Linked DNA regions of Homo sapiens: region 1 is linked to region 2. The links come from fine-mapping of genetic effects on gene expression. A gene starts in region 2. The other region holds a variant in brackets. All regions are shown on one strand. Distances are from middle to middle.

The links. PIP is the estimated chance that this variant, and not a neighbour inherited with it, causes the effect.
Region 1: its variant is fine-mapped to the expression of GGPS1 in monocytes (TOPMed, PIP above 0.99). The same link has a PIP of 0.9 or more in fibroblasts.

What each region holds. Positions count from the first base shown.
Region 1 is chr1:235,349,865-235,355,236 of GRCh38, forward strand. No RefSeq gene overlaps it. Among named protein-coding and RNA genes, the nearest start is that of TBCE, 15 kb to the right of the region's middle. The variant A/G (reference allele first, on the strand shown) is at 2,966.
Region 2 is chr1:235,325,658-235,331,029 of GRCh38, forward strand. GGPS1 (geranylgeranyl diphosphate synthase 1) reads left to right here and starts at 2,913. Exons shown (of 4, transcript NM_004837.4): 1 at 2,913-3,121. It overlaps ARID4B (AT-rich interaction domain 4B), which reads right to left and starts at 2,522. Exons shown (of 24, transcript NM_016374.6): 1 at 2,112-2,522; 2 at 1,257-1,311. The coding sequence starts at 1,262. RefSeq lists enhancers at 1,203-1,392, 1,411-1,936, 2,673-2,732, 2,973-3,062, 3,563-3,712 and silencers at 1,643-1,732, 1,743-1,972, 2,143-2,192.

The DNA.
Region 1 (5,372 bases), 24 kb after region 2:
TTGGGGTAAGCTGAGATCTTGCCATTGCACTCCAGCCTGGGCAACAAGAGCGAAACTCTGTCTCAAAAAAAATAGTAAAAATTAGGCCGGGTGCGGTGGCTCACGCTTGTAACCCCAGCACTTTGGGAGGCCGAGGCGGGCGGATCATGAGGTCAGGAGATCGGGACCATCCTGTCTAACACGGTGAAACCCCGTCTCTACTAAAAATACAAAAAATTAGCTGGGCGTGGTGGTGGGCGCTTGTAGTCCCAGCTACTTGGGAGGCTGAGGCAGGAGAATGGCGTGAACTCGGGAGGCAAAGCGTGCAGTGAGCCAAGATGGCGCCACTGCACTCCAGCGTGGGCGACAAAGCAAGACTCCGCTTCAAAAAAAAAAAAAAAAAAGTAAATTAAAATAAATTAAATAAATTAAAATAATTAAAATAAATTAAAATAAATTAAAATAAAATTGTAGCATTGTATAAATGAGTTAGCACTAAAGATAAAATATATACAATTTAAGACAGTATTATAACGATTAAGAAAAAATCTGAGTATAAATTCTGATAGTTCAGAGGAAGGCAAGAGAGGATCCAGCACCGTGAGAATGTCATTAATATTGGGAGAAATTCTCAATTTATTGAGACTGAAAGTCACCTATGAGTATCAATTTAATGAGGAAGTTGGAAGAATTTGATGCAGTTTCCTGTGTCACATCATGGCTCCAATAGGAATATATTATTTAGCTAGTGACTGCTGCAACAAACCAAAGATCACACCAGTAATTCCCAGCTGGCTTGGAATGTCATAGCATATATGGACAATTAATGTTTCCTGACTTACTGGATCTGTTCTTTCAGCCCATCTTGCACACAACTGCCAGATTAATATTACTGCTTTTTATGTTGAATACCTCTGTTCAAAAATCCTTTGTAGGACAAACACCTTAGCTTCACTGTCAAAGCTCTCTATAATCTGCTTCCCGTCTTATCTCCCATCATTCCTTAATAGGGTTTACTTCACCTAACCCTATCTATTCATTCTTAACTAAAGATATCCAGCCAGGTGCAGTGGCTCAAGCCTGTAATCCCAGCATTTTGGGAGGCCGAGGCAGAAAGATCGCTGGAGGCCAGGAATTCAAGACCAACCTAGGCAAAATGAAGAAACCTCATCTCCACAAAAAATAGACATAAAAAAATTAGCCAGTTGCTCCTGCATGTGTCTGTCAGGTGAATCCCTTGAAGTCAGGAGTTCAAGACCACCATGGCCAACATGGCAAAACCCCATCTCTACTAAATATGCAATAATTAGCCGAGTGTGGTGGCACATGCCTGTAGTCCCAGCTACTCAGGAGACTGAGGCAGGAGAATCCCTTGAACCCAGGAGGTGGAGGTTGCAGTGAGCCAAGATGGCGCCACTGCACTCCAGCCTGGGCAACGGAGCGAGACTCTGTCTCAAAAAAAAAAAAAAAAAAAAGATATCCTACAAGTTCTCACATTCATGCCTGTATTCATAATATGTCTGACATGTTTCCCTAGCCACTCATTAAATTTGCTGTATCTCTAACTTAAAGTTGTAATTTCTTGCTGAAGACCTCTCCAAATCAAAATGTCTATAATAAATAACAATGTAACTAAAAGAAACAAACCAATCCCCTTCACCCAGATAGAAAACGAGTAAGAGAATGGCCTTAGCTAAGTATTTCGTAGAGACCTTACAAAGCAAAACTTAAATATGGCCTTTGGTTAACTAATGGCCTTTCAAAGGCTATGACTGACTTAATACAAGGTCTTTTTGTTATGCCTTACAGACCAATTGCACTCTGCTGGTGAGACGCTGACTTCATAGTAAGGCAGCTGGAAAACATCTCTTTAACATGGATTCATGGCAGGATTTTTCCAATTCAAATAATGTACCATGTCCTTTAAAAGAAAAACAATACTCTTGGACCTCTACTGTTGACCTAGTTTTTTTTGTTTTACTAAATATATACTTAATATATAAAAGGTATACTTAATGCATAAAAAGGCATGAACTCTGTAGGTGCTATTAATACCCTTGTTTATTGGCTATTCTCCCATCCTAATTCTTCCTAATCACAGTTTAATTTCCTTTTGGTGAATTACCTCTCCCCAGTTGGGCACAGCCAAAGTAACCCATACAGAAGCCAAGGGGTATCAGGACATTGTTATATCTTTCCTCTCAGTGACCTGTACAGTCAAAGGTTGGATACATGACCTAATCTTGGCCAGTTGGACTGTCTCCAAGGAGATTCTTGAGTGGAGAAAACGCTTCACTTATCTGGCAGCATATGTTGGCCAAATGGTACCTGTTGCTGTGGTTCTTTGTCTCAGTTCTTTGTCTTGAACCTGAACCCGGTTCTCCTGCCCTCCTATTGTACTCTGAACTATCTAAAATCCTACTAATAAGTTAGTCAGGCTGGGCGCAGAGGCTCAAGCCTATAATCCCAGCACTTTGGGAGGCTGAGGCAGGCAGATCACCTGAGGTCGGGAGTTCAAGACCAGTCTGACCAACATGGAGAAACCCTGTCTCTACTAAAAATACAAAATTAGCCAGATATGGTGGCGCATGCCTATAATCCCAGCTACTCGGGAGGCTAGGGCAGGAGAATCACTTGAACCTGGGAGGGGGAGGTTGCAGTGAGCTGAGATCATGCCACTGCACTCCAGCCTGGGCGACAAGAGCAAAACTCTGTCTCAAATAAATAAATAAATAAATAAATAATAAGTTAGCCAGATCTCCCAGCTACATGAAGACAAAAAGAAAGCAAAAGATTCTATAAGAGATTATATAGTAAGTTACTATTTGTGAAAAAAAAAAATAAGGCCAGAAGCGGTGGCTCACGCCTGTAATCCCAGCACTTTGGGAGGCCAAGGTGGGCAAATCACCAGGTCAGGAGTTTGAGACCAGCCTGGCCAACGTGGTGAAACCCCATCTCTACTAAAAATACAAAAAAATAGCCGGGC[A/G]TGGTGGCGCGCGCCTGTAGTCCCAGCTACTTGGGAGGCTGAGGCAGCAGAATTGCTTGAACCCGGGAGGCAGAGGTTGCAGTGAGCCAAGATTGCACCACTGCACTCCAGCCTGAGAAACAGACCAAGACACTGTCTCAAAAAAAACAAAACAAACAAACAAAAAAAACAAAAGAAAGAAAGAAAGAAGGAAGGAAGGAAGGAAGGAAAAAGCCGGGCATGGTGGCTTACGCCTGTAATCCCAGCAATTTGGGAGGCCAAGGCGGGCAGATCACGAGGTCAGGAGTTCGAGACCAGCCTGACCAATATGGTGAAACCATGTCTCTACTAAAAATACAAAAATTAGCCAGGCGTGATGGCTAACACCTGTAATCCCAGCTACTCAGGAGGCTGAGGGAGGAGAATTGCTTGAACCCAGGAGGCAGAGGTTGCAGTGAGCTGAGAATGTGCCACTGCACTCCAGCCTGGGAGACAGAGTAAGATTCCGTCTCAAAAAAAAAAGAAAAATATTTGCACAAAATATCTAGGGGTAGGACCTGGGAGACAGAGGACTAGGAGGTGGGAGGAGCAAGAGAGACTTCTCACTGTATACCTATTTATTACTTTTCATTTTTTGGAAGCATGTGAACATGTCATCTATTCAAATATTGAAATTTAAAAAATAAAGGCACCAGTAAATGAGAAAACCAACAATAAATGCTAAGCAGATAATTTCAAGAGTGGCTACTTACATTGGGTATCCGGGGAAGACCTCTGAGGGAGTAGCATTTAAGCTGAGCTCTGAATGATAAGAAATTAGCTATACCACAATCCTAGTAAAGAACATTTGAAACCAAAGGAATAGCCAACAAAGGTCATAAGGTGGGAAAGAATGGTGCCAATATGTACAAAGCAACATAGGTATTAGATTGTGTAGGAATTTGTAAATCATAGAAAGGACTTTAGGTTGGGTTTTTTTTTTTTTTTTTTTTTTTTTTTTTTTTTTTTGAGATGAAGTCTCGCTCTTGTCCCCCAGGCTGGAGTGCAGTGGCGCGATCTCGGCTCACTGCGACCTCTGCCTCCCGGGTTCAAGCGATTCTCCTGCCTCAGCCTCCCGAGTAGCTGGGATTACAGGCACCTGCCACCACACCCGGCTACTTTTTATATTTTTAGTAGAGACGGGTTTTCACTATATTGGCTAGGCTGGTCTCAAACTCCTGACCCCAGGTGATCCACCTCCCTCGGCCTCCCGAAGCGCTGGGATTACAGGCATGAGCCACTGCGCCCAGCCAGACTTTAGGTTTTAAAACTAACTGCAACTTGAAGCCGATGGATGGTTTTAAGAAAATGAGTAAGGCCAGGTGCCGTGGCTCACGCCTGTAATCCCAGCACTTTGGGAGGCCAAGGTGGGTGGACCACCTGAGGTCATGAGTTTGACACCTGAGGTCATGAGTTCGAGACCAGCATGACCAACATAGTGAAACCTCATCCCTACTAAAAATACAAAATTAGCTGGCCGTGGTAGCACATGCCTGTAATCCCAGAAACTTGGGAGGCTGAGGCAGGAGAATCACTTGAACCCAGGAGGCAGAGGTTGCAGTGAGGGAAGATTGTGCCATTGCACTCCAGCCTGGGCAATAAGAGTGAAACTCCATCTCAAAAAAGAAAAAAAAAAAGAAGAAGGGGAGTAAAGGCCAGGCGCAGTGGCTCACACCTGTAATTCCAGCACTTTGGGAGGCTGAGGCAGGCGGATCATGAGGTCAGGAGTTCGAGACCAGCCTGGCTAACATGGTGAAACCCTGTCTCTACTAAAAATACAAAAAATTATCCAGGTGTGGTGGTGTGCGCCTGTAATCCCAGCTACTCGGGAGGCTGAGGCAGGAGAATTGCTTGAACCCAGGAGGCGGAAGTTGCAGTGAGCTAAGATTGCGCCATTGTACTCCAGCCTGGGTGACAGAGCAAGACTCTGTCAAAAAAAAAAAAAAAAAAAGAAAGAAAGAAAGAAAAGAAGAGAGAAAAGAAAAGAAAAAAGAAGGGGAGTAACTAGATCTGAATTACCTTTATAAAAGATCATCCTGGCATCTGAGTGGATGATGGACTACAGAGAGTCAGAAGAGGAGGTAAGGAAACCAATTAGGAGGGTGTTTGAGTGTCCAGTGAGAGATGGTGGTAGCAGAGAACATGGTATGAAGTAGTTGAATTGGGGATTATTTAGAAAGTGGAGTTTATATGAATTACTGGTGGATAGGATGTAGAGTTAATGGAAAGAGGAGTCAAGGATGGTCTTTAGATTTTTTATAAGAAACTGAGTAGATGGTGATAAATCATAAATCAGACTTAGGAAGACAGGGAAAGGGTAGGTATTAGGGGGAAATTAGAGCTGCCTATCAAGCATCCAGGAGGAAATGTCACTGCATGCACAGGCTAG
Region 2 (5,372 bases):
TGATGAGAGTTATAGCTAGGATTTGTGACTAACAAAAGGGATTCATTCCTGAAACATGTCTATGCTTCATGAAATGAGATAGGAATAAACTGTTTCAGGTAGTTTACAGCATCCCAAACTCAAAGAGAAAACCTTAAAAAAATTAGACTAAACTTAATTACTCTGTATAGTAGACCAAGATTTAAGTAGCCACAGCTTTTACCTTCTACAACCACAAGTATTACAAATTTTAATTTGGATGCAAAATTGTCAAAGCAGTCTTGATTCTGAGGACAAGTGAAATATTTTTTTAAATAGTTCAAAGGAACTGTCAAAAGTAGACAACGTTGATATTCTAACATGCTATCTGTTGCATTTCTACACTTGTGAACACTCTACCCTTTTCAAGCACTTCTGAATTTGTAATGGATGAAAAAATACAAGCTAGTGTCTAAGTTCCACCAGTTGAATCCAGACTTTTCAAAAATCTAAGGTTTTATTCTAGCATGTGTTTAAAAAAAAAAAAGACAGCATTCATATACATATTCTCTCAAGTAACAAAAATACCTGTATTTTTATCGTTATCATTTCTTCCAACAATTAAGCAAATTTTTTGACCCTATTCTCCACTCAGTTAACATATTGACATCTAAGAGGAACCTGGCCATCAGTTTTCCACACATCATAATGCAACAGAGCCTCTGACTTATTTACAGACCAACCAGATCAATAAAGAAAAATAAACCATATAACCCCAAGTCACTGGAAATACAAGAAACAACTGGTATCTCTGAATTGTGTAAAAAATCACAAAAATTCTCTTTTTAAATCTTTCAATTAAATTATTTTTGTGACGAGTCAAAGAGTTTTCTGCTAAAATTTTACAGTACTGTTCACACAATAAATAAGATTCTCTTTCATCAGTGTAACTGATAGAACCACAATACAGTTCAGTTTCTAGGGTCAGATTACCTGACTTGCTTTTTATTTTACCTTTTAAAACACTTTAATTCATGCCGTTATTCCTCTCATTCCCTACAAAAAGAGATGTTCAATATGGGAGAATCATCTTCAGTTGAGACATCCTATAACTGCCTCCAACTCCACAGCAAAGCCCGCCAGCTGACCCCGGTCTCTCTGGGGAAGGGCTCGGTCACCAAGTCACCAAACACACCTTCCTCTGCAAAACTCGGAAGCCCCACACGACGACCTCGTCGAAACCTCCTACTTCCTGAATTCGATAACCCCAGAGATTCGTTTTCCGCAGGCAATCTTACCTTCATGATGACTCTGGGACCAAGGTATCCTCTAAAACACCAGGTTCAGCTGCACCTGGAGGGGAAACAAAAGACACCCAGTCAACACCACAGGAGCCCCTCTGCACTGGCGGAGGCGGAGGGAAAGAAGCGAGCGACGTCCGAACCCCGAAGAAAGAGCCGCAACCAGGCGCCAGCCCCCGAACCATCACACGCCGACTCGGGGCTCCCTCCGGCCCCGCCATCCCCGCAAACCCAACCACCTACACAGCTCGGCAGCTTCCCGTCCCCATTGTCGAGACCCGACGGAGTTTCCCGTCTACGACAATGACGCCATTTCTGTCAGAGAAGAAACTCACAACAAGCCCGGCGTCCGGCGCAGGGCCGGCCGCTCTCCCCTAGGGCCTCGGCGCCCGGCCGAGCGAATCCGCGCCCCCACGCGCCGCGTCCGAGCGAGAGGCCGGCCGGGGGCCACCGAGGGGCCAGGAGGGCCTGTGGGCCGCGGGCAGGACCGGCCCGCCACAGAGCCCCTGCCCACGTCCCGTTCCGGGCTCAGACCCGACAAGTGGGAGCGAGATCAACATCTGGCCCCGCCGCGGGGACAACGTGAGGGCCGAGGGCCCCGGAGGCGGAACGGCCCCCACCCTGCCCGGGCCCCCGACCGCGGCCGCTAAACCGCTGAGTGTGCGGCCGCCCAGCCAGGGGGCGGCTCGGACACAGCGGCTGCGGGGGGTGGGGGTTCCCGGGAGGCCGAGGCCCCGAATTCGGGCGCCGCAGGGACCACCACCGCGATCTTCCTCTGCTCCTTGGCCGGGCCCAGCGACTCCCAAAAGAACCCCCTTAGGAGACCACGAAAGCCCCAGAAAATATCCCTACCTTCCTCGGAGGCGAGATCTGACCCTGGCACGTCCAGAGTCCCCTCTCTCCTTCTCCCCCCCAAAACCAGCAGGCCCGGGGGAGAGATGGGGAAGAAGGGCGGCGGGTCCAGCGGCTGCTGAGGCAGAGGCTCCGGCTCCTCCTCCTCCCGCGGCGGCGACTGGTACCTTTGTTTGGCGGCCGCTCGGGCTCCCTGGTTGGGGGGAGGGGGACGACGAAAAATCCCCCCCGGACTGGAGGTCCGGGCCCCCAATCGCGCTGCCCTCCAGAGGACGGCGGCGATGGACCCTCTGCAGCTCCCTCCGGGCAAAGGTCCAGGCGGTGGCCGTGGCGGCGGCAAGATGAAGCTCAAGAGTCTCCCTCCGCTTCGGCGACCGAGCTCCTCACTCCGGACTCGACTGACGGGCAAACATCGCTTCCCCCCCACCGACTCTAGGTTCCCCCCCTTTCTCCCCTCCCCTAGATTTTTTTTCCCCCCCTCCCCTACCTCTTTCCCGGATGGCCTCTTAGACGACCTTGGATTGGTTAAAGTTCTTTAGAACCCGCCTATACACTGTTCCTATTGGTCCCTGGATACAAACAACGACGCCATTTTCCCACCAGTTCTATGGAAACAGAAAGTTACGCCTCAAGGCTTTCTGGGAAATAAAGTCCATACTCTGGGGCCAACGCGCAAATCCTCGTCCGCGAGAACTGCAAGGCCCGCAATGCCCTGCGCCTGCGTGGACCGGTGCGGGGGCGGGGGGGAGGTGAAAGGGGCGGGGCAACAAAGCAGTAGGGAGGCGGCAACGACGCCTGCGCAGTGTGACCGGGATGGCGCATTTTCTTGCACCAACTAATGCGGTGTCGCTGGCGGCTGAGGAGGGCGGAGAGTTCTGTGGTGAAATAGTGGGAAGGATTCATGTAGGCATCGGGAAGAGCCTAAGTCCACATTATAAAATAGGAAGTTGATGCGGGGTACAGTTACTCCCGGACCGGCGGCGTGAAAGTCGTGATATCATCGTTGAACTGTGAGCGGCAGTGGCGGCGGCTGGGGGGAACCCGGATGGGAAGAAGGGCGGGGGAGGCTGGGAGGCGGGGCAGAGGAAAGAAAGAAAGGAGAGTGAGGACCCGGATGCTGAACCGGATTGTGTATGAATTTTCCATCCCCTAGCTTTAAGCGAGGAGGGAGAGGAAGGGTTGGCCAAGTGGGGCGGAAGGGAGCATCTGAGCGAGGAGGAAGCAGAAACCTCACCGTTTCTTCCCCTCCGGACTCTGTGCTAGCACTGTATACGTTTGCAGTTCTCTGCCCAGCCGCTGTGGAAAATCGGCCTCGAAGTGATTGAAATTCCCTGTTTATATCAGGCGGCTTCTTTCAGATCCATCGTCTTTCTCCCGGAGTATGAATGGAAGGATTCAGTATGCGCTTCACATTTGTATGTCTCTGGCCATTCTCAAACCAGGCCCTTCCCTTTGAAAAGTCTTTTGCATGGGATGTTCACTTCTTAGACGCAAGGTTGTGTGCCCTGGTTTCATCGTCTAACGCGTTAGAAGGCGCTTTCATTTCTTCATGGGTGTTGAGCGCCGACCACTGGGGTGGCCTCTGCCTTCGTAGACCTGCGCCTGGTGAGACGGACAGATGCTGAACAAAACGATGTGAAATTACCGCAGTGGCAGTGCCCCAGAGGAGAGTTCCACGGTGATAGGAGAATGAGGGAATTTGGCTTCTTTAGGGAGGGAAAGGAAGGGTTTCTGAGCAAGTGAGGATCGAGCTGAGAGCTGAAGGGCTAGCAGGAGTTAACTAAGGAAAGAGAAAAGGAAAAGACATTCCAGACAAAAAGACTAACTTGTCAGAAAGCCCTGTGGCGGAAGGGAGCTTTTCCAATATGAAGAACTGAGCCTGGAGAGATGGGATGAGGGGGAGTGTCGAACCTTTTAGGCTTTGTAAAGGAGTTTTGGTTTTCTCCTAATAGCAATGGGATATCTTCCAAGGAATCTCAATCAAAAGGGAGAGATGGCTCCGATTGGAATGTCATCCCTGGCTGAAGAGTAGAGGAAGCGAAAAAAAGAAGAGTTAAAGAGGCAAATGCAGGGAACCCGACGAGGAGGCTATTGCCGTAGTAGTTCACATGGTGAAAAGAATGGAGCGTTTGTATTAATGATTATGGATTCACTCTTTGAACAAATTTCTGGCAGCTTTTTAGTTTTGAAAGTGAGAAGTTTCAGACTCTCACTGAGGTATTCTGTAGTTTTTTCACTCTAAAAGGAAACTAGTAGAGTTCATGTAACACACACTAATGCCTCTTTACATTTAACTTTAGTATGTGATAGCTGAAATTTCCAGCTGTGATAAATTGGGAAATCCTTTGATTTAAAAGAAAAACAAAGGCGGGTGAGGGTGAGAGTATATGCCACGGTGTGTAGAATCCTTTAGACTCTTAAGAAGACACAAGGCGGCTGGGCGTGGTGGCTCACGCTTGTAATCCCAGCACTTTGGGAGGCCGAGGCGGGCGGATCACGAGGTCAGGAGATCGAGACCATCCTGGCTAACACGGTGAAAGCCCGTCTCTACTAAAAATACAAAAAAATTAGCCGGGCAAGGTGGCGGGCGCCTGTAGTCCCAGCTACTCGGGAGGCTGAGGCAGGAGAATGGCGTGAACCCGGGAGGCGGAGTTTGCAGTGAGACGAGATCACGCCACTGCACTCCAGCCTGGGCGACAGAGTGAGACGCTGTTTCAGAAGAAAGACACAAGGCAAGTTGGTTGTCGATACCTGGAAAAATTGAAGTTCTTATGTTTTCATACCACTGAAAATGCTTGTATGTAAATATCCTCTGGGACAGGAAATTGACTTAAGTGAGTATTCTTAAACATCTCTAAGTGAGGAAAGGAAATATTTTTTAAAGCATAATTAGTGTTTTAAGTTGAAAAATAACATCAACCACAAAGCTCTACGAATTGAAACAAAGATTAGCTCTGATTTCTGTGCAACAGGGTACACCTGTTACAGGTCCTGACACAAAAGGGAATTCTGAAAGTGCATCTCATTGATTTTTAAGTTCGGTCAAATGTGTTTTGGAGGCTGTGAGAAAATATACAAACGTGATTCTTGCTCCCAACTTGTAGTTGAGAAAAGATAGATACTAACATTTAAATAGAGAAGTATATGAGATCCTTTTTTAATTCTACTTTTAATGATGTTCGATAATAATCTTTTAGCTAAGCCATTATTCTTCCTGTTTTGCATCTTCTTTTCTTACTTCAATCCCTGATAATAAGGTCA